Linked DNA regions of Homo sapiens: regions 1, 2 and 3 are each linked to region 4. Evidence: fine-mapped QTL for protein levels in blood plasma. A gene starts in region 4. Each other region holds a variant in brackets. All regions are shown on one strand. Distances are from middle to middle.

Region 1 (8,103 bases), 160 kb before region 4:
CAGCAGGGAATGGGATTGGATTTAGATGCCAGGTCAGGTTACCGGGGGGCAGGGAAGGCCAGTGGTGCATCTGGGGTCTGTCTAATCCAGGCTTTCATCCAGTACTTTGCCGTTTCACCCCCAACACACCTGTTCTCATTCATCTGCAGACTGTCTCTTTTCATGATCTGCTGAAGAGGCTTTAAACAATCGTGGAGAACCAATGTATCTTTCCATCTGCATTAATCAGACAAAAGGTAGAGGTTGTCTAAGATTAAAAATGTCTAATACCTAAGTTTTATTATCTCCTCCCCCCCCCCTTTTTTGTTTTGATCTTAGGACTTCAAGGACAGCAAGGAAGAAAAGGAGAATCAGGAGTTCCAGGTAAAGGGCAGGCTGCATCTTCATCCCTCGGAGTGATGACGGGGAAGGCCTGCCTTCTCAGAGGGCAGGTCTTGTTGACATTGAATGCACAGCTGTGACCTTCTCCCAAAGTGGAGGTTAAGACTCCAGGGCTCTGTCACTCAAGCCTCAGATTTCTCCGCTGCAAAACCTGGGAACCACAGGAACTCAACATCCTGAGGGGTGTAGCGTATGGGGCAGGGGCTGAGGATGGCAAAGGGGCTGAGGATGGCAAAGGGGAAAAATGTCAGGAGAGCTGGGGGTGCAGGCAGAGGCTCCAGGCTCTACAGCCGCCATGGAGCTGTGCCCCTTCTGCTCCATCCACGGCTGCTGCTTCCCCACCTCAGCTGTGGCCCACTTGTCTCTTCTTGGCCCCCAAGCTTCTCCTCTCTGCCTCCTGCTGCCTGTCACTGGGCTTTCTTATTCTTATCCTCACCTCCAGAGCCTGTGCTTCAGTTGGGTACTGAGCTGGCACCAGCTGGACGGTGTTTCTAGGCCTCTCAAGAGCCCTGCCCCTGTGAGTGCAAAAGTGAGATTTTTCAGACACATTTCTTGAGCAAGTTTTCTTCCTCATAAGCTAGATATTCTATTATGTTTTATGGTTTTTTTTTTTTTCAATTTTTTTAGAGACAAATTCTCTGTGTCACCCAGGCCCGAATGCAGTGGTGCCAGGACAGGATAGCTCACTGTAGCCTTGGCCTCCCGGGATCAAGTGATCCTCCCACCTTCGTCTCCCAAAGCTTGGGATTACAGGAGTAAGCCACTGTACTCGGCCTCTGTTACTATTTCAATTCACTAAAGGAGACATCGAGGCTTAGAAACATTCTAGCAAATTCTCCCAGCATGGCTAGAACTTCCACATAACTATGTAATTCCAGAAGGACCAAGAATCTGTGGAATACCACCAGCTATTTTAGCCTGCCTGTTCTCGACAGCATTTACCTAAGAGTTGAGAGATCAGTGCAGCCCCCAGATGGACCAAAGACAGGCTGAACATTCAGATAGCCCAGCCATGGGGGAGGTCTGGCAGTTAAGGATAACTCATTTATTAAACAGTAATGCCCTTGGGTCTCTCTTGGGAAGGCAAAGCAGGGCACCTGATCAGGGCAGTGTCTCTCCTTCCAGGCCCTGCAGGTGTGAAGGGAGAACAGGGGAGCCCAGGGCTGGCAGGTCCCAAGGGAGCCCCTGGACAAGCTGGCCAGAAGGGAGACCAGGGAGTGAAAGGTAAGGCCTCTGCATCTGATTCCTTTGTTCTTAGGACTGTGCTTTACAGCCAGTTCTGTACCTTAAAATAGGAAAGGCGCTGTTTTAAGAGTTCTGGGGATTTTCAGAACCCAGGAGGGTAGAGGTTTATTTCCTTGATTGACAAGTCTTGTGCTGGGGCTTGCCCTAGGCATGGAGCACACAGCAGCGGGTTAGGCGCAGCTCTAGCATCCAAGGCAGGGGCGTGAACATGCACTTGAGCCATGCCCCACGACCCAACACTCCTAGGCAGTTTCCATGAAGGAGATGAGCCCATCCCACTCCATATCTCTGACCAGACCAAGCATCCCTCACCAATCTAACTTCAACCCCTCTTGCTGTAGCTCAGGCCCGTTTCTTCCTGCTCAGTCATTGACACCCGCAGGACATCCCATCCCCATAATGCCAGGCCACAGGCGAGACCCACGGAGCATCTGACCACTCCCAACCCTCCACCCGCTCCCCACTCATGCAAATGCAGGCAAAGGCGTCCTGCCTGGGTTTCTTTCAAACCGTGTGGGTTTTCTCCTCATGACAGGATCTTCTGGGGAGCAAGGAGTAAAGGGAGAAAAAGGTGAAAGAGGTAATCACTATTTATATTATCTTTAATGTGTGCTTTAAAGTCAATTCTGCACCTGAAAATTGTGTGTGTTGGGGGAAGAGACCTTGGTTCTCAAATAAATTTCTCATTTTGGGGAGGAGTTGAGGGTCTAGTCCCTTGAATGAGCCTGCCCACGGCACAGAGCAGCAGTTTCTCTCCCCAGCCACTCTCTCCCTTCCTTCCTTCTCTCCCTTCCTTCCCCCTTTCTCCTTCTTCCTTTCCTTTTCTCTCTCCCTCCCTCCCTTCCTCCCCTTTCCCTTCTTTCTTTCCTCTCCATCCCTCCTTCCTTTCCCTCTCTCTCTCCATTCTTTCCTTCCTTCCTTCTCTTTTCTCAGCTTTCCTTTTTTTCTCTCCACAACACATGACAAGACGTGGTGTATGCGATTTGCAAACCAGCCACAGGGGCACCTGCCCCTGTGGCCTTGTGCCTGCAGGCCCCAGGTGCATGGAGGCTGCGTGCCAGGTTGGGTTGGCACTGTAAAGTGGGATCTTCCAGGCTCTGGTGACAGTCAAGCAGGGGCATTTCTTTTCCTTAACTGTAGAACTCCAAAATGAAAAGAAAGAGCCCGCACTTACCCAAAGCCCCAAGGGGCCTTCCTTGCCTCTCCCATGTGTGTTTCTTCACCCAGGTGAAAACTCAGTGTCCGTCAGGATTGTCGGCAGTAGTAACCGAGGCCGGGCTGAAGTTTACTACAGTGGTACCTGGGGGACAATTTGCGATGACGAGTGGCAAAATTCTGATGCCATTGTCTTCTGCCGCATGCTGGGTTACTCCAAAGGAAGGGCCCTGTACAAAGTGGGAGCTGGTAAGTGAGTCATCAGCCGGGGGCCTCTTCCCCAGAGGTGTGGATGTGGCTTTCTCTCGCTGGTGGGGTGTTGGCAAGTGACTCAGTGTGGTTTTCTTTAAAAGAAAAATATTGGTCCAAGCAACCAAAAAGCTCTGCAGTGCAGGGCTCCAGGTATGCATCCTTCCAGCTTGGCAACCCCAGCAGAAAGATGGCCTGTCTTCTCCAGCGCTGACAGTGAAGGCTGGCCTGGCTTCGGTCAAGGTCCATCCAGCCCTGGAGTCAGAATGCCACATGGCTGAGGGTGTTTGCCGCAGATGGCTCTCCAAAGGACAGCTGAGTTGATGCAACTGGAAGAACAGAGAGAAGATTCAGGGCAGGCAAACGCAGATGTTCACTCCAGCTGTCTGTGAACCAGCAGCCTGGATTGACCAGCAAGCAGTCTTGGCTGTGATCATCTTTAAAGAGAAGATGGGAAGGGAAGAGAAAGCAAATCAGAGCAGGGACTTACTAAAATGTGTGGAAAATGTCTTCGGATGCTGGAGACTCAGCCTATATCTTTCAGCCAAAAGTTCAAGCCTTGAGCAAAGAAGTTAAGTCCCCAGGCAGAACCCTTTTCTCTGGCTATAGGATCTGGCCCAGCAGGACATGAGGCCAGTTTCCCTTGCTCCCAGCCCCAAGTGCTCCCTGTCCTTACCCAAACCAAAGCAAATGCCCACTTTAGAGCAGGGCGATGGCTTGATTACAGAGGCATGTGAGGCAGGTGGACGCAGCAGGAGTGAATTTGCAGGGAGGAAACTAAAGGACACCCGCCTAGGAAGATATTTCAAATAGTGTGGGGTTTAAGCATTAAAGATTTGCATGAGACTTTTGTCAAAGGGTAGAGAATAGAACGGAGGCAAAGTCATTATAAAAACAACAACAACAACAACAACAACAACAAAAACAGGCTAAGCCAGCCATCAGCACATTGGGCCGGAATGGGCCAGAATGAGTGAGAAGTCGGCAGTCCACCTCAGATGGAAGCTCCCAGGCGCACACGTGGCTTCTTTGCTTTGACTCTAATCCTACCCTTCTTCCTCTGTCTCTTGCTTTCTCTCTATCAAGGCACTGGGCAGATCTGGCTGGATAATGTTCAGTGTCGGGGCACGGAGAGTACCCTGTGGAGCTGCACCAAGAATAGCTGGGGCCATCATGACTGCAGCCACGAGGAGGACGCAGGCGTGGAGTGCAGCGTCTGACCCGGAAACCCTTTCACTTCTCTGCTCCCGAGGTGTCCTCGGGCTCATATGTGGGAAGGCAGAGGATCTCTGAGGAGTTCCCTGGGGACAACTGAGCAGCCTCTGGAGAGGGGCCATTAAT[A/G]AAGCTCAACATCATTGGCTGTGGCTGAGTGTCACTGTGTTCATACCTCCCATCCCCATTGATGTGCCCACTCCATGCACCACAACATTTCATTGAATTCTCTCATGTCCGTAGCCAGGGGAAGGAGAGGTTGGAGGTGGTGAGGCAGAAGGTGAAGGTCACCTATGGTCAACCTTAGTCTTGACCATCTCTTCAGTCATTCAGACATAACATCTCTCATGGTGAGCTCTCTATCCCCCTTTTTGTCCTCCCCTGACAGTGACCTGGTAACATTCCAGCACACACATGAACTCTCTTCATGCCCTATGCTGTGTGCTCCACCCTGACTCCACCTGCCCAACCGGTCCTTGCTCTCTCTCAGCGCCCTGCCTGCTGGGCTAAGCCCACTCTCCATGTTGCAAACCACATAGTAAGCCTGAAATCAGTCTTAGAGTCTCATTGATCTTTCCTTCCATACATGGGTGGGATTTACAGAATGGAAATATTTATCTGGAGTGACAGTAATCAAAAAAGTTTTCTGAAGAAAGCACAATTTGAACTGGACCTTAAAGGGTGGGGAGGATGTGACCCCTTCTTGGCATGCAGTGACTGTCACTCTAGGACCTGTAGGTATAAAAGGCTTCGTTTTCCTGAGCCTCTCCTGTGTCCCTTCTTGTGGCAACAACTCACTAACCATCTACTGAAAGAACAAAGAACACTAGGTATCAGCTTGTTTTTTTTTTTAAGTTTTAGGGTACATGTGCACAACGTGCAGGTTTGTTACATATGTATACATGTGCCATGTTGGTGTGCTGCACCCATTAACTCATCATTTAGCATTAGGTATATCTCCTAATGCTATCCCTCCCCCCTCCCCCCACCCCACAACAGCCCCTGGTGTGTGATGTTCCCCTTCCTGTGTCCATGTGTTCTCATTGTTCAATTCCCACATATGAGTGAGGACATGTGGTGTTTGGTTTTTTGTCCTTGCAATAGTTTGCTGAGAATGATGGTTTCCAGCTTCATCCATGTCCCTACAAAGGACATGAACTCATCCTTTTTTATGGATGTGTAGTATTCCATGGTGTATATGTGCCACATTTTCTTAATCCAGTCTATTGTTGTTGCACATTTGGGTTGGTTCCAAGTCTTTGCTGTTGTGAATAATGCCACAATAAACATATGTGTGCATGTGTCTTTATAGCAGCATGATTTATAATCCTTTGGGTATATACCCAGTAATGGGATGGCTGGGTCAAATGGTATTTCTAGTTCTAGATCCCTGAGGAATCACCACACTGACTTCCACAATGGTTGAACTAGTTTACAGTCCCACCAACAGTGTAAAAGTGTTCCTAATTCTCCACATCCTCTCCAGCACCTGTTGTTTCCTGACTTTTTAATGATCGCCATTCTAACTGGTGTGAGATAGTATCTCACTGTGGTTTTGATTTGCATTTCTCTGATGGCCAGTGATGATGAGCATTTTTTCATGTGTCTTTTGGCTGCATAAATGTCTTCTTTTGAGAAGTGTCTGTTCATATCCTTTACCTACTTTTTGATGGGGTTGTTTGTTTTTTTCTTGTAAATTTGAGTTCATTGTAGATTCTGGATACTAGCCCTTTGTCAGATGGTTAGATTGCAGAAATTTTCTCCCATTCTGTAGCTTGCCAGTTCACTATGATGGTAGTTTCTTTTGCTGTGCAGAAGCTCTTTAGTTTAATTAGATGCCATTTGTCAATTTTGGCTTTTGTTGCCGTTGCTTTTGGTGTTTTAGACATGAAGTCCTTGCCCATGCCTATGTCCTGAATGGTATTGCCTAGGTTTTCTTCTAGGGTTTTTATGGTTTTAGGTCTAACGTTTAAGTCTTTAATCCATCTTGAATTGATTTTTGTATAAGGTATAAAGAAGGGATCCAGTTTCAGCTTTCTACATATGGCTAGCCAGTTTTCCCAGCAAAATTTATTAATAGAGAATCCTTTCCCCATTGCTTGTTTTTCTCAGGTTTGTCAAAGATCAGATAGTTGTAGATACGCAGCATTATTTCTGAGGGCTCTGTTCTGTTCCATTGGTCTATATCTCTGTTTTGGTACCAGTACCATGCTGTTTTGGTTACTGTAGCCTTGCAGTATAGTTTGAAGTCAGGTAGCGTGATGCCTCCAACTTTGTTCTTTTGGCTTAGGATTGACTTGACAATGCGGGCTCTTTTTTGGTTCCACATGAACTTTAAAGTAGTTTTTCCCAATTCTGTGAAGAAAGTCATTGGTAGCTTGATGGGGATGGCATTGAATCTATAAATTACCTTGGGCAGTATGGCTATTTTCATGATATTGATTCTTCCTAACCATGAGCATGGAATGTTCTTCCATTTGTTTGTATCCTCTTTTATTTCCTTGAGCAGTGGTTTGTAGTTCTCCTTGAAGAGGTCCTTCACATCCCTTGTAAGTTGGATTCCTAGGTATTTTATTCTCTTTGAAGCAATTCTGAATGGGAGTTCACTCATGATTTGGCTCTCTGTTTGTTTGTTATTGGTGTATAAGAATGCTTGTGATTTTTGTACATTGATTTTTTATCCTGAGACTTTGCTGAAGTTGCTTATCAGCTTAAGGAGATTTTGGGCTGAGACAATGGGGTTTTCTAGATATACAATCATGTCGTCTGCAAACAGGGACAATTTGACTTCCTCTTTTCCTATTTGAATACCCTTTATTTCCTTCACCTGCCTGATTGACCTGGCCAGAATTTCCAACACTATGTTGAATAGGAGTGGTGAGAGAGGGCAACCCTGTCTTGTGCCAGTTTTCAAAGGGAATGCTTCCAGTTTTTGCCCATTCAGTATGATATTGGCTGTGGGTTTGTCATAGATAGCTCTTATTATTTTGAGATACATCCCATTGATACCTAATTTATCGAGAGTTTTTACCATGAGGGGTTCTTGAATTTTGTCGAAGGCCTTTTCTGCATCTATTGAGATATTGAGATAATCGTGTGGTTTTTGTCATTGGTTCTGTTTATATGCTGGATTACGTTAATTGATTTGCATATGTTGAACCAGCCTTGCATCCCAGGGATGAAGCCCACTTCATCATGGTGGATAAGCTTTTTGATGTGCTGCTGGATTCGGTTTGCCAGTATTTTACTGAGGATTTTTGCATCAATGTTCATCAGGGATATTGGTCTAAAATTCTCTTTTTTTGTTGTGTCTCTGCCAGGCTTTGTTATCAGGATGACGATGGCCTCATAAAATGAGTTAGGGAGGATTCCCTCTTTTTCTATTGATTGGAATAGTTTCAGAAGGAATGGTACCAGCTCCTCCTTGTACCTCTGGTAGAATTCAGCTGTGAATCCATCTGGTCCTGGACTTTTTTTGGTTGGTAAGCTATTAATTATTGCCTCAAATTCAGAGCCTGTTATTGGACTATTCAGAGATTCAACTTCTTCCTGGTTTAGTCTTGGGAGGGTGTATGTGTCCAGGAATTTATCCATTTCTTCTAGATTTTCTAGTTTATTTGTATAGAGGTGTTTATAGTATTCTCTAATGGTAGTTTGTATTTCTGTGGGATCGGTGGTGATATCCCCTTTATCACTTTTTATTGCATCTATTTGATTCTTCTCTCTTTTCTTCTTTACTAGTCTTACTAGCAGTCTATCAATTTTGTTAATCTTTTCAAAAAACCAGCTCCTGGATTCATTGATTTTTTGAAGGGCTTTTTGTGTCTCTATTTCCTTCAGTTCTGCTCTGATCTTAGTTAT
Region 2 (8,103 bases), 13 kb before region 4:
AAAATCACATGGTCCCTGTGGGAAAGGCTCGTAACCTGCATATGTCAAACATATACTGGGGCTTGTTGAATACCTATGGGTGAGTGAGGCCTGAAGTTCCCACCCAGTGGGCCCAGGTAGGAGGCTCCCACTTCCCTGTCAGCTCTTTCTGGGGCAGCTCCTCCTCCCCAGTTCCTCCCCTCAGTGTGTTTTGGTTCCTGTTTGTTTCTTGGCCCCTGTGTCCTGCAGCACTCACACAGAATCCCACTTGCCCTGTAGGAAACGTGGTGCTCATTCCTTAGCGGGGAAGGGAACCATCCTGCCCTCCTCCACGGATGCTCCATACCATGTCCTGAAGATCTTTCAGCAAGGACATCCAGCCTCGCCTCTCCCCTGCTTCCAGCCCTTCGGTGGTTCCCCATCCCTTCAGATGAACATCTCAGCTCTCTCACAGGTCACACAAGGTCATATGGCCCCCACTGGACTTTCCAGTCTCCCACTTGCTAGTCTTTGGCTACAAAAAAAAAAATGTAACTTCTCTGCATGGTACTAAGTCTTATGCCTCCACACCTTTGTATATACCATTTCTTTTGCCTGAAATGCCCTGTCCTGTGCCCCTAACTGCTACTCAATTACCCAGAGGACTCCTATTTATCCTACAAAACCCAGTATAGATTTCACTTTTGGGAACAAGCCTTCCTGGATTGTGTGTTCTCTCCTTCACAATGATGTTGGCCCTTTCTTCTGCTATGCTTCCCTAGATCTTGTATGTGCATGTCCCTTTGTCTTCACACCATGATGCCCCTTGATGCGACTGTCCCTCCACCAGACCATGCATGAGCTCCTTAAACGCAGTATCTAAATCATCTCTGCTTCCCCAGAACTTACTACAGGGCCTGGCACACTGTAGATGGCCATGAAAGTTTTATTAAGAAGAAATAAAAGACATACTGGAGGAGACAGCCTTTCTGCCCCCAAACTCAAAGCGATTTACAGCCATCTCCCTAAACTGGACAGGTGTGTGTTTGGTGTCTTCTCCAACCTGCTATATGTGACAGCTTTGAAGTGAGAGAACTTCCAGTTGCCTACATTTTGAACTTAGTGAATATTACAAATGATCACATTAGTGAGATAAGCATTTTGGAGGCACTTTTATTGACCCACCTAAGAAAGGCTCTAAATGTATGCCCCAAAAACGGAGACTAGTGATTTTGCAGCCTCACAAATGGCCCACATTAGGTAGGAAGTTAATTTGATTTGCATGTCAAAGGAGCGTTATCTGGTACCTGATGTAAGACTAATTTTATTATTAAATTATCAACACTGATTTACTGAGAAATACGGTACTGCCGGGAGCTATTTTTAACCTCCCACCTCAGCCCCACTCAGCAAACAAATCATTCTTTGAAGGACACTGCATTTGCAAAAGCGAATTAGGTGAATAAATATCCATCTATTCATGAAGTTTCTTTATTGAGAAATAAATAAATAACAGCCCCTGAATGCCTTCATTGTCCGCCTGGCAGGTTTCCACGACGTTGACAGTGGGCACGGCGGAAAGGGCCACTGTTTGAAGTGCCAGTCCAAGAGTGAGTGGAGAGGCGCTGGCTTGGGTTCCCACCTGGGAACTGTGTGAGGCCCCGGGGCCTGGGCCAGGGCGGGGGGATTGGTAATGTCTCACCCACCCCAGGCACGAGGGCAATGGATAGGCCTGGTCCAGCTCACTGCCTGGAACATCCCACGCTCAGCGCAGAGGACACAAGCTCAACTGAAACCCGGGTGTCTTCGTTCTCCCACTTACTATTGCTGGGACCTTGACCGAGTTACTTAACCTTTTCGTGTCTCAGTTTTCTCATATACAAAATGGGGATAATTTCTATCATTTTGTGGTGGTTGGGAGGATTAAATGAGATACATAACACATATAAAGCACCTGGAAAAGTTCCTGCCACATAGCAAGAACCCAGTGTGTGTTTCTTATTGTTCTAGTCTGCATCGTTATTGGGATAGGGAGAAAGGTAAGAACAGAAGTGTCCCTCAGGGGCAGCCATAAAATATCTTGGAGGAGCATGGGCCTTACAGTCAGACCTAGGTTCCATTCCAGCTCCACCTGGCAGAGCTGTGTGTCTCTGGGCAAACTACTCAACCTTTCTGTTCTTCAGATTCCAAATCAATGAGACAAGCATAATCACACCTACCACTGCAGGAGAAAATGAGATCATGAGCGTAAGCTCTGTAACATGGTGCCCGGCACTGAGTAAATGATCAATACACAATGGATGTTTAGTAACAGGAGAGTTACTCTTATCAAGATTAATACAGTCAATTATTCCATTCCTTGAACACATTCTTAGTGCTTCCTAGTCCCTCTTTCTTCCTTTTTCTCTCAAAACCTGGTGATCGTCTGTGATAAAATGAGAAGAATCACAACTCAATAAAGTGGTTTAAAAAAATCAGAAAAAGAAAAAGAATCCTCTCTAAAGGATCCTGACTGATGCCATTGTTATTTAAACATTGATATTCCCTGAAGTAACCCAGGAATGGAAAACTAAATGCCTCCTGTTCTCACCTATAAGTGGGAGCTAAGCTATGGGTGCGCAAAGGCATACAGACATACGTATAACTGACATTGGAGACTCAGAAGGGGGAGCGAGGGATGGAGAGAGGATAAAAAATCTACATATGGGGTACAATGTATACTACTAGGGTGATGGGTGCATGCAAATCTCAGACTCCACTCCTATACAATTCATCTGTGCAACCAAAATCCACTTGTACCCCCAAAGCTACTGAAATTTTAAAAATATATTAAATATTGATATTTTGTTCTGTCATGGGTTACAATAATCTTGATGTTTTAAATATTGCATTAAAATTATTTCTCTTAATTGGAGAGTTTTTTTGCACTCTCTTAAATTCTGCATCTTACCCTAGTCCAGGCTCTGCATAGAGACTAGAAGGAACCTCCTTGTGGGAAGAAAAGAATCTCCATTTACCTGCGGAAGTGGATGGAGGGAGACAGTGGGCAGGGAAGAAACAAGGCCAGATCATGAAAGGCCAGTCCACCAGGTTTGGGACTTGGAGGTGATTGTGTAAGTGCCGGGAGACATGGAGGTTTACTAAGCAAGCAGCTAAGAGTGATGACTATGATTTGATGGCAATCGGACTTCCTTTGCCCCATCCCTCCCGGAATGGGAACACGGGAGAGTTAATCAGGAAAACCCTAACTGAGCCCCTGGTCCCCTGCAGCTGCTGGCAAACCCCCATTAACCACTGGCTTCTCACACAGTGGAAACAATTACTTGCTGTTTGAGGGTTTGGACCATGGGGTCCCTAACTTGGCAGCCCCATTAGTCCAGGGATATGAAAGAAGGTAGCTGGCAGTAATGACTAGTTAGCCAGCTTCACAAACACAAATCCCACAGGCAACCTCCCACGGCTGGCCCTCCGGTCCTGCAGCTCGGCGTGGAAAGCACCTACTCCTCTCTGCCAGCCTCCTCAC[A/G]TGCACCAGGCTGGGCAGTGGCCTTGCTTGTTCATTTCCGCAAGAAGCCCCCATCATGAGTTACTGAGCAGCAGAAACAGAGTAAGACACAGGCCCTCTGCTGTGATGCAAGTTCCTCCTTCTACATCCAGACCTCCCAACATGGGTGATGACTATAGTGCAGAAGCTGTGAAGTGTCCCTCGAAAAATGGGGGTACATAGGCAAGGTACAGCCCACAGGGTGGCCAGCCAAGCAAAGGGTGCAACTTGTGGCCAGGGGCCAAGCAAGGGCTCAGGCAAACACCACACATGGCACATGGTGCCACCAACTCAAGGCATGAGGACATGAGGCATGCGCAGTGCCAGACCTGCCATCCTGCAGGAGTTGCAGGAAGCACCTCGAGAGAGAAGCCAGGCCCCTCATGTATTTGTAGGAAAGCTCTTGAGCTTGACTCGGGATTTCTGCCACACCACTAGGGAGCTTCTTGTTCTCTGATGCCAGTCACCTGGGCCTGTCAGAGGCTGTCATGCTAGCTGCTGGGCTAGCTCACTCACGGGGAGCCAGGCGAGAGCCCTATGCCTGCCTCTCTTAGAAAGTGGCTGTTTGGAGAAAGCGAAGAAGGGATGGGCAGTGGCTTCTAGAAGCTCTGCCGCCGGACTGGGAGATTTTTTGGATAGAGAGCATCTCATTCCCAGCACCTACATAGGGTTAGCATACAGCTGTGCACTGACTACATGGATGATGGATGAGTAGGTGTATGTATGTATGTATGTATGTATGTATGGATGGATGGATGGATGGATGGATAGATAGATGGATGGATAGATAGATGAATAGATGGATAGATGGATGGATGAGTAGATGCTCTAGCTAATGTATCCAGGATGCTATGGGAGATAGCATTTCCAGGGCTGGGATACAGCCCTGGAAAGTGATCTGCTCTAACTGCCTGACAGAGAGGTGGGAATCTATATGCTTGCTCTGTCTCCCATCATGTTTACCATGTTCAGACCCCTCACTTTGAACTATCAGAAGCCCTGAGAAGCAGAGAAGACTGACTGGGAGGCTATTCTCAGTAGAGTTGTTAACCAGCCATGAGACCCTGGACTGGTCACTTCATTTGTCTTAGCCTCAGTCTCCTCTACTGAGGGGAGATGGGGATGTTATAATTGTATGTCCAGTGACCACAGTCCTTGCAGAAATCCACTGGGAAGGAGCACAGGAGCTATCTGTAATTCCACATGCTGGTGAGTGTGGGGGCTGGCATGTCACTACAAATGAGGGAATGAATGGCTGCCAATGCCCTTCAGAAAGAATCGAGTGGTATTACAATGTTAAGTTGTTGCTGCTGCATGTGCAGTTATCTGCATCTGTGATTCCAGAACACCATTATTTGGGGTCTTTTAGGCAACTCAGGGACCCTTCTAACTTCCAGCTCCTGCCCTGAGATGTTTCTTCTCCCCAGTCCCTCCCTCCCCCATCATTCAACACTCAGCCCTGGACACCTCCTATCCCCATGTGACCCCACCCCAAATACAAACTCCAAACACACTTCAAAGAGAGTCAGCAATGAAGTTTATTATGTGTGTTGGAGGCAGGGAGTTGGGAAAAGCGGAACCAATCAATGGCATAAAGCTCTTCTATCTTTCTACTGAGAGGCAAGAAGGGCTCAAACACCCCCAAGAGTGTTCTGAGCCAGATACACAACCATTGCAATTGACACTGTTGTGTCCCCATAGGTACAGCACACCACACACACACACACACACTCCATCCCACACACAAACATCCCTCCCACAATACATCCCTCCTGTCACACACATAAGTCACATCTCCCTCCATGTATGTGCATGCCATATGCACACCAATGCACACAGCCCAACACACGTGTAGAGAGAAAGGCTCCAGAAAACCCTTCCCCGAGGCAAGCTCACCTCCAGGACTGTGATTGTGTTTCCCTCCCTGCCAGAATGGCCTCCTCCTGGTCCCCTCCAAAGAGCTGGAGGCATCTGCACCGCTTTGTTTCTCCTCTCCTGGCTTTACCCTGGGCTCAGTGGCTCTCTGGAGTGATGTCGGCTCCCTGTTCTGGGTGGGATATCCCCTGCCCTGGGCCCTGGTCTGGCTCCTGTCTTTTACAGAGTTCATGTGGGACTGGGCCTTATCTCAGGACATTTTGTACCCCAGGGCCCGGCACTGCGTTCAGTGTAGATGTAGGCACTTAATAATTGTTTGGAGAATGAATATGGAACCAAGGGATTTCCAAAGTGTGTGAGTTTTTTCTGCTCAGCCTCATTGCCAGCTCCCTAAGGAGCTTAATGACCACACTTACATGACAAACCCCAACTGATGGGCCACCACCTCCTGGAAGCCCTCCTGACCACCCCAGCCCTTCTCAGGACCTCTCATTTCCACATAGAGGTTCCCTGTGCCCAGATCAGCCATCGGGTCAGCCCTTCCCCAAGTATCCGTAGAGTGGATCAAGACACACTGCAGCACCTCTGTCGTGCAAAAAGGAAGGGCTTTATGGCCACACAAACCTGGGCTGCAACTCAGCCTCCACCACCTCTTAGCTGTGGAGCTGGAGCACAGCTGAGTTAACTTCTCAAGTCTCGGGGCCCTCGCCTGTGAGATGGGAAGAATAACACCCATTTTGCAGGACTTCAGGGAGTTTTAAATGAGGGCATGCAAGTCACAGGCACCTCTCAGTAGGTACCTGACAAACAGGAGTGAGTACTATTGTTGTTATCATTGACAATTACTATTCTTGTTACCAACCAGACTGAAAGAGAGTGACAACCATTCCCCCCACCACGGTGCTGGGCACACAGTGGACACCCAGTAATCAGGTTTTATGTGAAACATGTGGCAAAGCTGGCTTTCACAATCTGCAGGCCACCAGACAGCTCCCACTGGACTCCATGCCCTTGAGCAGCATCTGGGTTTCCCACGTATGCCTCATGGAGCTGGGAAAGAAAACAGAAACCAGCCTTCCAAGGCTTGTAAGCTCCATATTGATCCCGTGGAGGCAGGGCAGGTCTTGAAAGAGGGCCGCAGCTTGGACTGCATGCTCTCAATGTACCCTCCTGAATGGGCTCTGCTGAGCACACCCCCTACCCAACCCTGACCTCAGAGCTTTAGTGGGATTAGCAGGCATTCTTACTATGCATAGCAAGAGGCCCTGAACCACTGGGCTGTGTATGCCAATTTGAAATCAGGCTGCGATGGAGTTGGGCCGTCAATGGGAGTTTGCATATTCATGTGGCAGAGCCCTGAGACTTAGTCACAGCTCCAGGCCCAATTACGCAGGGGCTTATTAGCCTGGGATTTAACAAGGGAGCCCCAACAGGATCTGCACAGTCATCAGTCTTAAGTTGCACAAGCATTCCCAGCACGTACTGGGACCTGCGAGGGCCAGTGCTAAAGTAGGTGAGAGACCAAGGCATGAACAGTGGAAAGGGCACTGGGTTGAATTCTGGCTGTGACATATATAACCACCATTGAAAACGGCCTCTCGCTTCCTCATCTGTGAAATGGGTACAATTATCACTCATCTTCACCTCACAGGGTTACTGAAAGGACTGTAGACATGTTTGAAAAATGCCCTTGGTGTCTCCTAACACACAGGCATGCTCATAAATGCCAGCTACTGACACTAAAATCCTGCCCTTTCTCACTCCAAGAAGTCTCAGTTTGATGATTCCTGAAATGTATCGGCTCAGGAGAAAATGAAGAGATCCCTAATCATTATCTCAATACCACCACCACATACTAACCCCAGGTCTCAAGCACTTATTCTGTATCCCATACTGTTACGACATCTCATTAATTCTCCCAATTACCCATGTGGTAGGAGGACTGGTCCCATTTTATAGATGGGGAAAAGAGAGGTTCAGCAAGTTAAATAATCTGTTAAATTATTGCGGAGCTAGTTCATGGTAAAGGTGGATTTGAATCCACCAAGTTCAAAGACCACAGTTGAGTTCCTCCAACCATCAGTAGCTTGGACAAGTAGCCAGGTGGTGTAGTTGGCAAAGTGACTCTTTCAAAATAAATGTTTAAGTGCTGATGACAACTAACTTTTATGGAACACTTCCCGGTGACATCGCTGACATCCATTAGCTCATTCACTCTTCACATTAGTCTTGTAGAATAGGCAGCATTTTACAGAAAAGGAAACCCTGTACCAGGTGCAGTTGTTCGTGCCTGTAATCCCAACAACTTAGGAGACCAAGGTGGGAGGATTGCTCAAGGCTAGGAGTTCAAGGCCAGCTTAGGCAACATAGCAAGATTTCATCTCTACAAAAAGAAGAAGAGGAAACCATGGCTCAGAGAGGTTCTATGACAAGCCTCAGATAACCAGCAGGCTGGTAGGGAAGACAGAGAATTGGATTACTAAAAGCAGGACCTTTGACGTCAGATAGACCTGGGCTTCAATCTTCAGGCTCTCCTTTGCTGTGTGACCTTCAGCAAATCACTAGCCCTCCCTGTGCCTCAGTTTTGATCCTCTCACAGCGTGACCGAGAGAACTGTTGAGATATTTAACTTGCTGCATCTCACTTTACTCCATTGTTGAGATTAAGCAAGATAACACAGATAAAGGACTCAACTCAAATTTTTTAAATGGTTAAAATCACTTTTTGTC
Region 3 (8,103 bases), 170 kb before region 4:
TAGGGTTTGGGATTTCAGTGGAATGGGAAGTGTCAGAGGAGGACATGGTGGCCTGATTGGAGTTCCTCCCACAACTAACCAAGACTTTTTGGTTTTTCAGGAAGCAAAGGGGACAGGGGCATGAAAGGAGATGCAGGGGTCATGGGGCCTCCTGGAGCCCAGGGGAGTAAAGGTGACTTCGGGAGGCCAGGCCCACCAGGTAAGAGGGCACGTGGTCACATCCACTGACCTCTAGGTATTTCCTTTTTTTTTTTTTTCTGGCTGGCTGAGCCAAAGGAAAAAAAAATTCCTAAAAGTTCTTTTTCATCTTAGGTTTGGCTGGTTTTCCTGGAGCTAAAGGAGATCAAGGTAAGAACTACAGGAATCTGGGCATCATCCCAGCTACGACTGTCCCTGGCAGAGTGAAGCTGGGGACCAGACACCACCATCTTTTGCTTCATTGTAGTATTCACCCAGAACACCTGGGGTTTTTTAGACATCTGGCCCTGGCCAAGAGGAACAGAGCAGCCAGTGGGCGGTGGGGGCAGGCCTCACTGATGTTTCTCTCTAGACTTTACCCCACTTTGCCACCCAGGGGGTGGAGTTGGACAGTCACACCCAGAGCTCCTAGTAAGTCCATAAGTCCCAGGCCCTGCAGATGGAAAAGATTAGTAAGTTGCTGAGAATAATTTTCCTCCTACTAAGAGGGCTAGCTCATGGCTTCTAAAGAGAGGTGTTAAAGCTGCCAAGAGGACTGTAAGGTGTTAAGAGGTACATGTCTCACTGCTGAAAACAGAAGCACTGGGGGTTGGGGTATCTGGGCCCTCTGCCAACCACCACAGCCTGGCAGTCACTACTTTCCTTTCAGGACAACCTGGACTGCAGGGTGTTCCGGGCCCTCCTGGTGCAGTGGGACACCCAGGTGCCAAGGGTGAGCCTGGCAGTGCTGGCTCCCCTGGGCGAGCAGGTGAGGTCCTGGGTCCTATGGTGGGCACAGGGAGTGATGTGTGAAAACCTGCCTAGTCCAGCCCTTATGCTCTCTGTGGTGTCTGTTGTCCAGGACTTCCAGGGAGCCCCGGGAGTCCAGGAGCCACAGGCCTGAAAGGAAGCAAAGGGGACACAGGTAACAGAGGGTGCAGTGGGTGAGTAGGTGGGCTTGCTGGGTGGCAGGATGGATGGAGAGAAAAACTGCTTCTTCTTAGGCCCACGGAGGAGGCAGAGGGTCTTCTGTGCCTTGGCCTCTGAGGTTCCTGGTTATGGGGGCAGTTGCCCCTGCCAGGACCCCTTAAGCCCAAGGGCCTAGGGCTGTTCTTTCTCTTCTCAGAGCTCATGAAAGTCCTTGAATGCCATGACCAAACCTCCAGCATCACGGAGGAGAGCAAAGCACCTTGCCCATACCATCTCCCTGGTCTGCCTCCCAGCTGTACGTTTCTGCTGTCTCCTGCTAACCCTTCATTGGGGCCCCTAAGAGGGGGTCCAAGAGTCTAGATTCAGGCTGGAGGGTCCAGAAAACTCTTCTTCCACATTTTCCTAGGGGGGCAGCCTGGGAGCACTGACCCACACTAGCCAAAGACTAGTTTATACCATAATGCCAACAGAGTCTAGGTTAGTCTAGGTTATATACCATCATGTCTATTTAGTCTAGGTCGTAAACCATTGTACCAATATAGTCTACTTTATAAGCCGTTTTGGTCCAGTCACAGTGTGCTTGCTTGGTCTAGAAAGTCCAGACCACTATCACAATGCATAAGATCAATTCCTGCCTTTCTGCCCTGACATGCAGGGTATTGCAGTGAACAGAGACTGTTGCCAGATGATGTGGGCACACTCTGATTGGGCATTTCTGTGGAGAACTGTTGCACATTGGAAAGCCAAGAGCGGGCAGGAGGGGCAATGGGGAAGGCAGGGTTGTGATGTAAAGCTGCATGTCTGCCAAGGACATCTGTAGACAGTCTGCCTCCACCCCTGTCCTCTGCCTGAGAAGGTCACGCTTGTGTCAGACAACCTGGATGCCCTCACCCCCGTGCTGTGCTAGAGACCTACACTGGGACCTGGCCCTCCACAGCTCTAATCAATTGATTGATTCATTCATCACCACCTCCTGGCAAACCTTGGGCTCTGGGCTTGAGCTTTTGTGTTTCTTTGAAAGCTGTCGGGAGCCATGGCAAGCGCAGTTTTACACCCTCTCTGTCCTTGTAATCTGTCGAGCCCCAGAGCAATTGTGTTTTTTATGGACAGTGTGTTTGGGAGGATCCCTGCTACCTGATCCCATGTGGATGCCACCTGAAGGCCACTAGCTGGGTCTCACCATAGGAAAGTTTCCATCTGGGTATAGTCGTCAGATGTTCCTGACTTGTTCACTGTCCATTCTGATCTTATAATTCCATCTTCTCTGGTCCCCAGTCTCAGAGTCCATCTGACTATGAGACCTGATGCTCTCTTGCCCCTGAGCCTTCTGTGTGATTTCATGGAGATGATTGCTTTCATCTCTCGGTTGTAAATAGTAGTCACCCTCTGCCCCCACCCCCACTGCCAGACTAACGGTTCTCAACTAACCAAGAGTATTGGAGGTAAAACATGATTTTACCCACAGGAGCATTGTGCTTACTCCCCAAGCCCCAAGCTTGTGTCTTCCACAGTCTGAGGGTAGGGAATCCTGCCCTGCCCTTTGCATCCTGGGAGGATTTGCAGAACAAAAGCAGCTCCTGCTAATGAGCATCTTCTTGACACCCAGTGGGACAAGCACTCTTTGTAGCACAACTTTACGGTCAAACAGCCATTAAGAGATGCAGCCAGGTTCAAATCTAGGCCAGTACAAGACAAAGCTTGGGATCTTATTAGTACAGTCTATCATGAGTTCTCCCTCCCCAGCCCCACAATCAGGGTGTGCTGATGAGTGACACCTCCTCCCTTCATCCCAGTTCAGAAAGGATCAGAGCAGAAGGTAGCAGCTTGTTCCATTCCTGGGAAGAAACATGAAGCTTTCAGGCCCTATCATGGTTCTTAGTTATTTAACCAGGACCCCACACCCATTTTAGCAAAAGACTTTTGGCCCATAGCTTGGGGATCATTTTAATTTCATCCTCATCGAGACCTTTTATATCTGCTGAATACCCTTATGGAGTTCTCCAATAATTAGGCCTAGTGGTGAGTACCAGCCAGCAAATTCTAGGGGTTACCCTTAATTCTGGCTGACCAAGTAAACATGAGGAAGTGCATTTCAATTTGGGGCTTGTGATAATTCCCGTTTATCTAAAACTGTGCAGGTTGCCCACCCGAGTCCAAATGTTTTCCTTGATTTAGTAGCTGACAGTCCACATGGACATCTCAGAGGGGAATTCCAATAGGACCATAATCTGGCTAATTTAGCTGGGTATGTAGATCATCCTGGAGTCATAGGCTAATAAACTTCCGGAGAGATTAGATTTGACAACTTCTGAAGTGGGAGAAGCAGGGGCAGGCAGAGGGTGGGAGCCCAATCTCCCCATCATGGAGCACAGTGTATACTTGTCAATGTCAGGATGTCGGTATTCCCCAAACTAAAGCCACTGCAGTGCTTGGCCAGTGTTGATATATCAAGCCAGGTTTCCAAACTGATGTATTTCCCATTTTGTAAATAAAATCGTTAATCTCTCAAGAGAATATCTAGCCACTTTAGATGAAAACAGAAAAATTACAGTGCGTTGGCTTGACCTAGGTGACAGCTAGGTTTCATTACTG[C/T]GCATTAATTATTTTAAAAACATGAGCGGTCTGTTCATTATTATCAGTGCCTCTGGGCCAGGCACTGTGCCTGGGTCTTGACTCCCATGATCACACTGAACTTATCATTCCTACTTTACAAACAAGGAAGCAAAGGCTCAGAGAGAGTAAACCCTTTGCTCACAGTGTCACAGGGAGCATGAACTGAATTCAGAAGTGAATCCCAAAGTCTGATTCCAGAGTTGTGCTTTTCCAGAATCGGTTTTATGGAAGAACGTAGAGTGTATGATTTGAGAGAAATCGGTTACCTTCACCCTGTCCCCACCCCAGCCACACCTCCCACTCCTCCATAAATGGGTAAATCCTGGCTTGGTCACCAAGCCTTTCTACCTCCTCCACAGCCACTGACCACACTCTACCCCATTCAGGTGAAATGCTTCCTCTTGTTTGCATCTCTTGAGAGAGGAGCCAGCTCATATTAAAGAAGACAAAGAGGAAATTCTTCCCATTCTGGTGGGAAGATAACCTCCACAGTTTATTAAGCAAGGCACCATACCCTGCAGAACCTTCTCTCAGGGTCACTTTTTTTACCTACTAGAAACAGACCCTGTCCAGCCTCCATCACTTAGTATTTCTAACATTTTCACTTTCAAAGATTGCAGAAGAATAATCCAATTTTAGCTCTACATGTCTTAGCTATTTTGAAATAATATTTATTTAGAAATAAGGAAGGACTCCACTTCGGCTTGTAATCATGACATTTCTCTTTTTACCATTTACACCTCATGAAATAACATTAGAAGCAGCCAAAACATTTAAACTCCAAAACACCAATCTGATTGGAAATTCTTTATCTCAATGGCCTTTATGTCTAAACTATAGCAATGTGAATTTTCCATGCCCTTTTATTTTCCTCTTGGGGCAAAACCGAAGTGCAAATAACTCAAAATCCATTTTCTCATCTGTATTTGAAGATGTTTTACTTTAAAGATAAGCCAAAAAGATCATCCATAATAGCAATTGAGCCCTATGTCATGAATATAATTTCTTAGTTAATTCCATTCCTTATATCTAAGTTCTGAGATAGTCCAATAATTTATTAAATTCTACTAAGTCAAATCACTAAATTGTCATTTATAAAACTCTTCCTCATTTTCCTCTAAGTTTCTGAGAGAGCTTTGCAGAAGTCTACACATACCCCAATTTTGAGTCCCTTATCCTTCATCTCACTTCTTACCACAAGGTCGATTTGTCAGTTATTAGCTCAATCCTAAATTTGCCAGGTTGCATCTAGCCTCCAAGTTGGCATGGTATTTAGGAAAGTTTCCCCAGACGGGGCAAGACAGCAATGTCCCCCTCTCTACAAAACATAAAAAAATTAGCTGGGCATAGTGGCATGTACCTGTAGTCTCAGCTACTCAGGTGGCTGAAGGAGGAGGAGAAGGATCACTTGAGCCAAAGAATTTGAGCCTGCAGTGAGCTATGATTGCACCACTGCACTCCAGCCTGAGCAACAGAGTGAGACCCTGTCAAAAAGAAGAAAGAAAGAAAGAGAGAGAGAGGAAGGAAGGAAGGGAGGGAGGGAGGGAGGGAAGGAAAGAAGAAAGAAAGAAAGAAAGAAAGAAAGAAAGAAAGAAAGAAAGAAAGAAAGAAAGAAAGAAAGAAAGAAGGAAGGAAGGAAGGAAGGAAAGAAAGAAAGAAAGAAAGAAAGAAAGAAAGAAAGAAAGAAAGAAAGAAAAGAAAGAAAGAAAGAGAAAGAAAGAGAAAGAAAGAAGAAAGAAAGAAAAGAAAGAGTGTGAGAGAAAAGAAAAGAAAGGGAAAGAAAGAAAGTTTTCTTAATGTATTGGAGATTTCTCCATTTCACTCAGAATCAGGAGATCTGAGCCTCAGCTTGAACTTACCCCTGACTAGCTGAGTGACCACAGGCTCAGCTACTTGACGTTGCTGAGCCTGTTTCCTTTTCTGTGGCGTGCAAGCAGTATAGAAGAACACCAGGTCCCTGACAGTTTCACAGCACTCTGGGTTTGAAATAGGCAGCTTCCCTGGGAGCAGGAACAATTGAAGACTTTAGTCAGAACACCAGCTCAACACTAAACAACTGGAAGGCATATGTTTTCTAACTTAACACACATTTCTTGGGAGAATATTATTTCTGTAAAAACACTTTGCAAGTAAATATTTGGAACCCTTTCAGCTTGATAAGCTTGTGATACTTGGGGAAAGCCAGCTTGCTTATGGTTAAGAAGAAAAATCCAGCATTTATTTGCTCTCCAGCGTAGTTTTACAACATGCAGCTCTAGAACCTATTTTTTAGCCATTTCTCCCTCTACTCTGCAGGAGCTGATCCTATCAGGATGCTGCCTTGATTTATAGTGAAGTAATTACTAGTTCCTCCATCGATTAGTCCATGGACAACCACTCAGCCAGTGTTCTCTTAGAGTCCAGCGAGGCTTGGAGAGAAATGATACAAACCTCAATTCTAATTTCCAATACCCATTAAATACATATCAGAAGGCATTTCATCAAGGTCCAACCTCTGCTATAGGAACTGTGGGTCTGGGAGGATTCAGATGCGAGAGGGGCTGTGAGCTCCTAAAGAGACAAGGAAGGCTGCTCGTAGGAGGTGGGCTGTAAGCTGGTCGCTCAAGAATGAGTGAGAGTTGTTTAGGGCAGTGTTACTCAAAATGTGGTCCTGAGACTTGCAGCATTAGCATCACCTGGGAACTTGTTAGTACTGTGGATTCTTGGATTCCCACTCCAGTCCCACTAAATCAGTGACTCCGGTGGGACCTAGCAAGTTGTTTACTAACAAGATGCACCCAGATGATTCTGATGTATTCTCTAGTTTGACTACTCCTCTTTTAGGGGGAAGAAATGGCCTCAGGGAGGCTGGAGGTGTCTTGGGAACCAAGTGCGTAGACCAAGTGAAACTCCAGATAGGAGTGAGCCTAGTACTAGTGGAACAAAGGTGCCTTCAGGGAACATTGGGAGGCTGGGCCTGGGTGACAGCCCCAACTTCCCCCATTCACTCTTATGTGACCTTGAATTACTCACCTAGCATCTCTGAGTGTGTACTTTCTCCTCTGTAAAGGAGGGAAATCACACTGCCTTGGAGGGTGGCTGAAAGATCAAACAAGGTCATGGATGTAAAGCCCCTGGCACAGTGCCTGGCGTGATGCAGGCAGCAGAAAATGCTGAGTCCCCTGGAGGTGAGGAGCTAGGAAGGGAGAGTGTGGGAAATGAAGAGGGAGAGTCAGGCTTGGGGCTATGGACCTGGTGAACAGGGGCTTCCCTATGATTCCTGTCTTTAGAGGGTGTTTGCTGCTCGGTGCTTTAGGGGACAGTTGGAGGGGTGCATCTCTTTAGGTGGTCACAATAAAGGGTGGTCACAGTGTTTTGAGGCCCCTTCTACTTACCTGCATGTGAACAGCGTATGTCAAGACTGGTGGGGAGAAAGACCACAATCTATATGTCTATGATGGTGATGAAGCAGGAAACAGTCCACATCCAGACTCTTGGCCCCTTCTATCTGCATCCCAGAGGGTGCCATGTTGCAGAAATCTCTACCTTAAGAGCGTGTCCCTAGAGGTAGGGTTCAGGGACCCCAAGACATAGTGACCTCCCTGGATGTGGACTGTTTTCTACTTCATCACCATCATAGACATACAGAATGTGATCTTTCGCCCAACCCATCTTGGCGTATGCTGTTCAGATGCAGGTAAGCAGAAGGGAAACATCTGTCGCTTCTCCTGGGCAATCTCAGCTAAGCCCTTCAGGTCAATAGCAGACATTTTCTGGGTGCTAGCTGTGCAGCAATCCTGGTGCTCATGTGTGGACTCAACCTCAGTGCCTGAGGTGCTCCCCACCTGGAGGGGACACAGGACACTGTGGGTCCTGTTACATCATTTATTCAGCACTGGCTGGGCACCGGGCTCAGCGCTTGATACACACGATTTCATTTCAGCCTTACAACTGCCTCAGGAGGCAAACAAGGAGACTCAGAGAAGGAAACTGAGGCTCAGAGCAGGGACACCTGGCTCAAGGTCACAAAGTTAGTATAAGACAGAAGTGGACTCAAGTCCGGGCTGTCAGACTTTGGAACCACTTTGCTTTACTGCCTTGGGAGAAAGGATATCTTGTCTTGGGCGAGGGAGAGAAGGCTTCACAGGTGGTGACATCTGACATCTTTGCAGAGTTTACAAGCTAAATGTGAGTTCTCCAGGTGAACCAAAGCAGTGAGGCATTCTATTCAGAGGGACAGGTGTGTGCACAAATGGCCCTGTGTAAGCTGGGGCCTGTCTGCCAGGGGCTGACCTCTAAGGCACCTCCAGCTCTTACAAAAACCTATCCCAACCTCAGTTCTGTCCCTTTCCCTAACACGAGGAACAGAAGTAGCTGCCCTCTCAGAATCTTCTGGTGCTTCCT
Region 4 (8,103 bases):
AAGGAATAGCGACAGCAACAGGACTCAAGGCAGGGGGTATAGTTGTCTTTTAAATGGGAATCACAGCTTTCAGCATTCTCCAGGAACTAAAGTCGAGCACAAAGCAATTTGGGGCCAGAAATGCAGCATGAACATTGTCACACACCACACTGACATGGACTTATGAATATAAGTGTGTGTACATGTGTAATGTGGATTACGTGAGGACAATCACAACATCACATCCACATAGGAGATACACACACACACACACAATCTCCAGCTTTACACAGATACACACACCCTGGGGTTGCCTTTTTGTGTATACTCACACATTTCTTTTCACACAACCCGTAAAAGTGACCTCAGTAAGCACTAACAGGTTGCTGGGAGCTGACTGGTTATTTTGTACATAACTTTGTTGTAACTCAGTGATCTGACAACAAAAAAAAAGTAAAAAGAAAAAAATCAAAACCATGCGGGGTGTTTTCCTAACTTGTGTGTGTGTAGAATGCTGATGGGACACCAAACACACACACTCAGGTTCAGAGCAGGCACCCCAAATCGCATGCATAAGGGAAGGGAAGCCCGCAGGAAAGAGGCGTCCCTCCCCAAGGAATGGTGTCCACCTCAACACACAGCCCTGAGGAAGTTCAGCAAGCTGGATGATCCGCGGAATTGCCTCAGTTTACCAGCTCTCCGGAGAGCGGTGGCCCTGGCGGCTGTGAGTAAACAGGCCTGTGCTTAGTGAACCATCCGCTCGAGCGGGTGTGTGTCTGCTAGGGACTTCTGCACTTCCTTTTAGGAGCCAAACATCCTACAGATCCCTCCCCGGCAAGTGTCACTCACGCCTCCCATTTCCCATAGATGCCTTCTCTTCCCCTTCCTTCCCCAGAAGCCCCTCCCCTCTGACCTCCACCCACAACTCCGGGAGGACTAAGTTGCCCAAGTTGCCCAAGACTGGAGACCCAATCATTCCTCTCCTGCTTTCCTCTAACTCTCCCTGATGCCTTTCCCCGCCTCCTCCCCTCCTCCCAACCCCACCTCCGGCCTCTCCAGCTCAGGGCTGCAGCCTGGGGAGAGCTTCTGGGAAGGGTGGGATGCAGCTCCCATTTACCCCATGTCTTTTCGGCAACTTCTGGTGGCAGGGACATAGCAGCGGCTGGGGAGCAGGTCATAGATGGGCCTATCCTGGGCCCAGGTAAGGTCTTTATGCCAAGGCGGACATCTGGAGCCCTGGTCCAGGATGTGTCGACATACAGACAACAGAACGCATAGTCTAAAAACATAATTTAATGCATCGCGGTGAGTCTGAGTCAGGAGGGAATGCGGTGTGGAGAGGTGAATTTTCTGTTTGCTGGAATTCTGCTGTGGGTGGGGTTTTGGCTGATGGACAGGGAAATCTGCACAAGTATTTCGGGTCACAAAGAAGGACGCCCCAGGAAGCCCGCGCTCCCTCTGGCCTACCTCCCTGGCCAGGGCCCGGAGCCCTCCGCTTCTAGGCACTGGGAGGAGGCTGTCTGAGGAGGGCAGGCTCCCGGCCCTGCCTGTCCAGTCTAATCAGGTTTGCAAAGTCTGTGCCGCCGCCTCAAGGGCTCGGGCGTCCCTTCCTCCCTTGCCGGGATGGGGATGGAGACCAGGAGCACAGCCCTGAGCGTGGTGGGTCGCAGACGCACTGAGGCCAGGAGCGGGGCAGGGAGGACGCAGGGATTTGTCTTTTCCAAAGGAGATGTCAGGAAGTGTTATGAATCGAGAGTGGCCTTTGCCAAGGAGCCGCGCCCGGGCGGAGACCGGGCGGCCTGCAGCCACCCCGCCTCGCACCCCCCGCGCCCCTAATCCGGGTACAGAAGAAAGCCCGAGAACGTGCTGTACTTGTTATTATTGCCTCCGTGAGCCTTCCCGCCATCCAGCTTCACATACACTTCGTCCCCTGAATCCAAGTGCAGCACCACGCTGTTACTGGCGTAGTCGTAGTTCTGGTCGGCGTCCTGTGCAATGGCGCTGGCCCGGACCTGGGGACAAGCGGTGGGAGCAGGTGAGCCGGGGCACCTCTTCCCGCGCCTTTGCTCAGCCCACACCAGGCGCGCCACTCACGGGCCTCCCGCCTGCTGCTTCAGGGTCCACACTCCCACCCCAGCTCCATGTTCTCTCTCCAACTTAGTCAACTCCTTCCAGGTCCCCCCTCCTCCTCGCGCCGACGAGTCTGGGAAATAGGGAGAGGGGAAGCTTCATGAACACTGACCCAGAGTGGAAGGGTGGGAGCCAGGGGCCAGGGCCAAGAGGAAAGGAGGCTGCAGGGCAAGGGGGCGACCTGGAGAGAACTAAAGAACTGAGGTTTCCGAGAAGCCCACGGAGAGGCAGGCAGGGACGCAAGTGGCCAAGGAGTGTAGTTTAGGTATGGGGGTCTCTGGGCTCTCAAGGCCCAACATTTGGCTCTACGTCCCGGTGAGCGCGGCCTCGGCGCATCGGGAAGCGGAGATACTGTGGCACCGAGGCGCGTTCATTCCCGGGGCTCGCAGGGTAGCCCGCGGGTGGAGAGAAAGGAGGCTGGTTCCCTGGGAGGTTCAGGGCGCGGGCGAGGGTTTACGGGGGCCGGTGAGTGTAGGGGTCACTGACCTGCCCGTTCTTGCAGAGGTCCGCCCACATGCTGGTGCCGTCGCCGCCGCGCATGAGGATGTGGTAGGTGAAGAAGTAGATGCCGCGTACCTGGCAGCTGAACTTGCCCGTGGTGGGGTCATAGTGATTGCCGAGGTTGGTGACCACGTCATCGAACTTCAGCACCTCATAGCCTTCGTGGGGGCTCTTGAGACCCACATAGAAGGCGATCTTGGGGCCGCTGAAGGTGGCGCTCAGCGCACTGGTCACTTCACCCTCGGAATCGCCACCTACCCCGGCCCCGCCGCCCACCACCCCGACGCCGCTGGCCGTGCCCGCCGTCAGTTGCAGCCCTGGCAGCCCGGGCCGCCCCGAGTCGCCCTTCTCTCCCGGAGGGCCCCTGGGTCCAGGCGGGCCCGGCTCTCCAGGGGGCCCCCGCGGCCCTGGCTTGCCCGGTCGCCCCGGGTCGCCCTTGGGTCCCTGGATGAAAGGAGGAGGAGGGTTGGCGCTGAGGTCCTGCATGACTTCCAGGGCGGCGGTGCTGGGTCCGGGTGGCTGCGCCTTTGCACCCGGGGGCTCCCCGCCGGGCGCGGCAGTGTAAGGGTCGCAGATCATGCGGCAGGTGCCCATCATCTCATAGTGCGCGGCGCCTCGGGGCGCCGCCTGCAGCAGCAGCGGCACGGCGATGAGCAGCCCGAGCGCCATGGCCAAGAGTACGCCGACGGCCGCCAGGCAGGCACGCCGCCGCCGCTGCCACAGCCGGGAGGCGACCGCCACCAGCTCCTCCTTGCCGCCCGGGGAGGTAATGGTGGGGCGGCGCGGGCGGCCCCGCTCCCCGCGCTCGGGGACCGGCTCCGCGGGTCCTGGCCGCGCCCCCGACGTGGCGACCCCCAGCCCCGGCTACCCAACTACTTCAGCGAGAGGCGCCGGGACCTCTGAGCCTGGGCCCACCGCGCTGGGGCTGGTCGGGAGAGCCGCGGACGCCCGCGCGCATGACGTGGGGCACACAAGACGAATCCGGCGCCCCGAGGGTCCGGCGCCGGCCAGGGAGTGCTTGCGCTGGCCGGGGAGTCTGCTTGCGGCGTCCGGCGCTGGCTCCGCGGCGCTGCCTCCCGCCAGGCTCCGCTCCGCTGGGTTTAGTGGGGCTCCTAGCGCAGTGAGGGCGCCCCGGCTCCGCGGCGCGCTCTGCTGTGCTCTCTCGCTGTTCGCTGGCTCCCGCGCGGAGGGGGGACCCCGCTACCCTGACGTAAGGAGTCCGGGGCTGAGCGGCGGAGGCGGCGAAGCAGCGCGCGCTGCCATCACTCGGGAGACGGAGCCCTCATGTCATCAGCCTCCTATCTGGCGGCGTCCTCGGCAGAGGCGGTGAAGGCGCGGTTCCCCCTGGCGGCTCCCAGGAGCCACAAGTGGGCGCAGCGGGCGCGGTCCCAAGCCGGGGCACATCGGACACACCCACCCGCGGCCACACTCACGCGCCCCCCACCGATAACACACACAGACACCCACGCACGCAGTGGCGGGGCACGCACAGCCACCCCCACATGGCCACGAAAGCAGCTGGAATCCAGGTGTCAGCAGGGCTCCTCTGGGGTCACCTAATCCATCCCCTGGCCTGCAAAGAGGATCAAACCTCAACCCACCGAGTCCAGGAGAGTCCCGTGAGGTCCAGCGGGAAGGAGTTTCTGAAAGACCTCCTGAGTTATTTCTTCAGAATTGAATAGATCTCGCTTCTGGAAGATCTTTCGCAAACCTAGACTAAGGACTCCAGACTCTTAAACAGGCTCCCGTAGAGCACCCCACTAACCTCTGAGGTGACTCTAAAAAGCCCAAGGCTCCCAATACAAGAATATTTGCGGCCGGGCGCAGTGGCTCACGCCTGTGATCCCAACACTTTGGGAGGCCGAAGCGGGCAGATCACCTGAGGTTGGGAGTTTGAGACCAGCCTGACCAACATGATGAAACCCCGTCTGTACTAAAAACACAAAATTAACTGGGCATGGTGGTGCATGCCCGTAATCCCAGCTACGCGGAAGGCTGAGGCAGGAGAGTCGCTTGAACCAGAGAGGCAGAGGTTGCGGTGAGGCGGGATCGTGCCATTGCACTCCAGCCTGGGCAACAAAAGCAAAAGTCCATCTCAAAAAAAAAAAAAAAAAAAAGGAATATTCGCCTCAGACCTTTTCTTCCACCAGAAAATGGCTGGCCCTTGTCCTCTGCGTGAAGCTGGTGTAGAAACCAAATGCTTGATGCCGGCACTTGGCAGTGATCATGGTGCACTCAGCTTCTACTCCAAGCCCGGCCACTGCCAGGCAGATGCATGGGCACATTCCCTTGGACATCCCCAGCTTCCTCCTCCTGAGATGGGTTTAGTTATTTTAGAAAATAGTCCAAATAGTCCAAAGCCATTCTGAGCCAGTCTTGAATAAACCATGGCCTCAGATGAGAGCAGAATAGTCTATCTCCAATGTAGCATGTGAGGCTAAGGAAGGATGAGAGGCCCGCCGGTGTGGGAGAGACTTCCAGCGGAGAAATCAAAGCCCCAGCTTCTGCTCTTGCCCTGAGTAGCTGTGTGATTTTGCCAGGTGGTTCCTGTCCCTGAGACTCAGTTTCCTTAAAAGGCCGCCTCCTGCCCTAGCACCCCCAACATGGGAATCACACCAGGCCTGTCCTGGGGGGAGAATCTAAGGGCTGGTGTCAGTGTTTGGTGTAGCATCAGCATCTCTGGAACAACAGTGCACCCACCTAAGGCTATTGCTTTGAAGCTAACTCTCATTTGTCCTGCACTAGGTTCTTACGGGTTAATTAAAATCTATTTTTGTCCTCTGATCACCCTGGGTCATTTCCCCACTCCCAACCTCGTTGCTCTAGCCTGTTCTCTCCACATATATTTGTGGAAAGGATGACTGAGCCTAGCCGGAAGCCAACTTTACCAAGGAGAGAAGGAGCACATTTATTGGCACCTACTACGTATGCATCAGGCACTTTGCACGTGCTCCTTCATTCATTCCTCATGTTACTGTGGATTAGTGATCATTTTCCCACCGCACCAATGAGGAAAAAAAAAAGGTTTTGCAAGTGTAGGGTGTTTGCCAAGTGCATTTTACCCACATGACAGAGCCAGGATCCTCCCGGCACCCAGATCAGGGGCTATCTGAACCTGTCAGTGAACACAGCTTCAACAGCTACTTCTTGGCCACAGTCTTCACTGGTTTCCTCAGACTTGGGAGTCTTTCTCCACTCTCTGCCTCAGAGTCATCCCAAGAGCACGTGATTTCAGGAGCCACATGGCCTACTTCCAATCCTGGGTCTGAGACTTCCTGTCTGTGTGACCTTGAGCAAGTTGCTTCATCTCTCTGAGCTCGGATCTCCATGTGTAGAATGGGAATGGAAAAAGAACCTACCTCTAAGTTATTGAGAAGACTGAACGAGCCAATTAATGTAAAGGCTTTAGAACAATAGCTAGCTCAGTAGAAGCTTAGCTATTTTTATTAGCTATTGATGCTTTCAACCTCCCCTGCCATGGTTATGACCACTAGGATGCGACATGAAGGCAATATGCAGGGTGGCATGGGGAGGGTTAGGGTTTTAAAAAAAGAGAAGCTCAAAGATAATTCACATCCTTTGTCCTTCTCCAGAGCGCAGAAGGGGGATGTCCCATGCCTCCCACATTCCCCAAGCCTGCCCTGCTCTGTCTTTTTGTCTTTCAAAACTACCCAGAGTGTTTGTTCCCAGTCACCAGTTCCACCTGGACAAACATTTTCCAGGCAGACACTCACTCCGTTTGAATTCCCCAGCCTTTCAGACTGCTGGAGACTGCCAAGTCCCAGTGATTTTGTCCTTGCAGTATCTGGGCAAAGATGAAGCAAGGAGGGTCAGATGTTTGAGACCCAGGCTTTCACCTTGGCAGACCACAAGCAAAGCTACCTTCCCTGGGGATCAGCATTCCTGGGAGCGCCTCTCAAGACCAGCCCTCCACCAGGAGGCAGGGGCAGCAGGCTCCAGGGCAGGCAGAGCCCAGGCAGCCTCCACATAGCAGCCAAATAAGTCAAGAGGTGTCTTTCCCCTTGCTTCTCCTTCCTCCCACCCATCATGGCAGGGCCAGAAGGCATGGCCTGCTGGAGTGTTGAACATACCTATTTTTTTTTCTTTTTTTTTTTTTTTTTTTTGAGACAGAGTCTCACTCTGTCGCCCAGGCTGCAGTGCAATGGTACAATCTTGGGTTACTGCAACCTCTCCCTCCCAGGTTCAAGCAATTCTCCTGCCTCAGCTTCCTAAGTAGCTGGGATTACAGGTGCCCGCCACCATGCCCGGTTAATTTTTGTATTTTTAGTAGAGGTGGGGTTTTGGCATGTTGGCCAGGCTGGTCTCGAACTCCTGGCCTCAAGCAATCCACCTGCCTCAGCCTCCCAAATTGCTGAGATTACAGGCGTGAGCTACTGCACCCAGCTGACATACCTGTTTATCCACCTGGCTTCTGCTCCTCCTGAGCGATCCATATCATTGGTGACTATCTTCTCTTCAATACTAATTATGACCTATATTAACATATTGCCTTCCATTTAGACTGTGGTTTTTACATTTCGAGACCCACTCAAATCTGTTCTAAATTGCCTTTAGTAATCCAGCAGGCATTCCTTCTGCCAACATACACTGACAACCTACTATGTGCCAACCAGTGCTCTCTATCTTATCCTTTCATAGAGCCCTGTGCTCTGTGACACATAGTTTGATGCTTGGTTCCACACTGTCATGTCCGGTTCTTTAGTGGCCTCCACCAGCAGTGGGCCCCATGCTTCATCTACCTGCACCATGGCCTGTCTCCTGCATCTCATCTGGACTCCTCTCTAATTATCCTTTCAGTCTCAGCTAAGTGTCACTTCCTTGTCTGAAGTCTTCCGTGACCCTTCTCTAAGCTGAGTTGATAGTTCCTACCCATGTACGCTTTAGAGTACGTTGAATGTACCCTGCCATCCTATGTCTTACCATCATGCATTTCTTTATTAGTTAGCCTCCCCCACCTGGCTATGGGCTCCAGTAGGGCAGGAATCGTATCATTCATTCATCTTCATCTTTTGTGTATGTCATTCATTTGCTCAATATGTGTTTATTGACCCCTGTCATATGCCAGCCATCATGCCACGTGCTGAGTACACAGTGGTACACAACAGTCTTGGTTCCTTCTACTCTAGCTGTTCTACAAGACACCCTCAGCTCCCCCATTTCTTTCTACCCGTAGCACATGAGTTTGTACCTGAACAGCTGCAGCATGGGTGTTTATTGACATGCTGTCTCTAAATCAGACCTGTGTCCCAATTAGAGTGTAAGCTCTTTAGAGACATCATGTGGAATACATTGGCCAATCTTCTGCCTGCATCCCCAAAGGGAAGGACAGCAGGAGATGTGTCAGGGAGATAGACAGGAGGGAGATCACCCAAGGCCTTGGAGCCCATGTTGAAAGAGGTGAATTGTCTCCTGTGTGTAATTGAGAACTGCTGAAGGAGTTTAAGCAGGGAAGTGATGTGATCCATCTATGTT

Which allele goes with the higher level. Positions count from the first base shown, and alleles are read on the strand shown. Strength reflects both the effect of a copy and how common the allele is.
As copies of A replace G in region 1, the plasma level of the protein whose gene starts at base 3,761 in region 4 goes down (weak association).
With allele A in place of G in region 2, the plasma level of the protein whose gene starts at base 3,761 in region 4 is lower (moderate association).
For the plasma level of the protein whose gene starts at base 3,761 in region 4, C is the low allele of the variant in region 3 and T is the other (moderate association).

Evidence for each region. PIP is the chance, under the fine-mapping model, that this variant and not a neighbour inherited with it causes the effect. The UK Biobank Pharma Proteomics Project read protein levels with antibody pairs (Olink). The fine-mapping took linkage between variants from a reference panel, not from the people measured, so its PIPs are less certain.
Region 1: its variant is fine-mapped to the plasma level of the C1QL2 protein (UK Biobank, PIP above 0.99).
Region 2: its variant is fine-mapped to the plasma level of the C1QL2 protein (UK Biobank, PIP above 0.99).
Region 3: its variant is fine-mapped to the plasma level of the C1QL2 protein (UK Biobank, PIP above 0.99).

Annotation. Positions count from the first base shown.
Region 1 is chr2:118,990,271-118,998,373 of GRCh38, forward strand. MARCO (macrophage receptor with collagenous structure) reads left to right here. Exons shown (of 17, transcript NM_006770.4): 13 at 319-363; 14 at 1,507-1,605; 15 at 2,162-2,206; 16 at 2,854-3,030; 17 at 4,117-4,390. The coding sequence ends at 4,250. LOC124906072 (a long non-coding RNA gene) reads right to left here and starts at 3,048. Exons shown (of 3, transcript XR_007087213.1): 1 at 2,801-3,048; 2 at 818-896; 3 at 1-216. RefSeq lists an enhancer at 2,127-3,326. The variant A/G (reference allele first, on the strand shown) is at 4,372.
Region 2 is chr2:119,141,566-119,149,668 of GRCh38, forward strand. No RefSeq gene overlaps it. Among named protein-coding and RNA genes, the nearest start is that of C1QL2, 13 kb to the right of the region's middle. The variant A/G (reference allele first, on the strand shown) is at 3,482.
Region 3 is chr2:118,981,309-118,989,411 of GRCh38, forward strand. MARCO (macrophage receptor with collagenous structure) reads left to right here. Exons shown (of 17, transcript NM_006770.4): 9 at 101-199; 10 at 313-348; 11 at 848-946; 12 at 1,040-1,102. Among named protein-coding and RNA genes, the nearest start is that of MARCO, 43 kb to the left of the region's middle. RefSeq lists an enhancer at 7,679-8,103. The variant C/T (reference allele first, on the strand shown) is at 3,700.
Region 4 is chr2:119,154,991-119,163,093 of GRCh38, forward strand. C1QL2 (complement C1q like 2) reads right to left here and starts at 3,761. Exons shown (of 2, transcript NM_182528.4): 1 at 2,596-3,761; 2 at 1,253-1,991. The coding sequence starts at 3,279. The coding sequence ends at 1,812. RefSeq lists an enhancer at 2,129-2,939.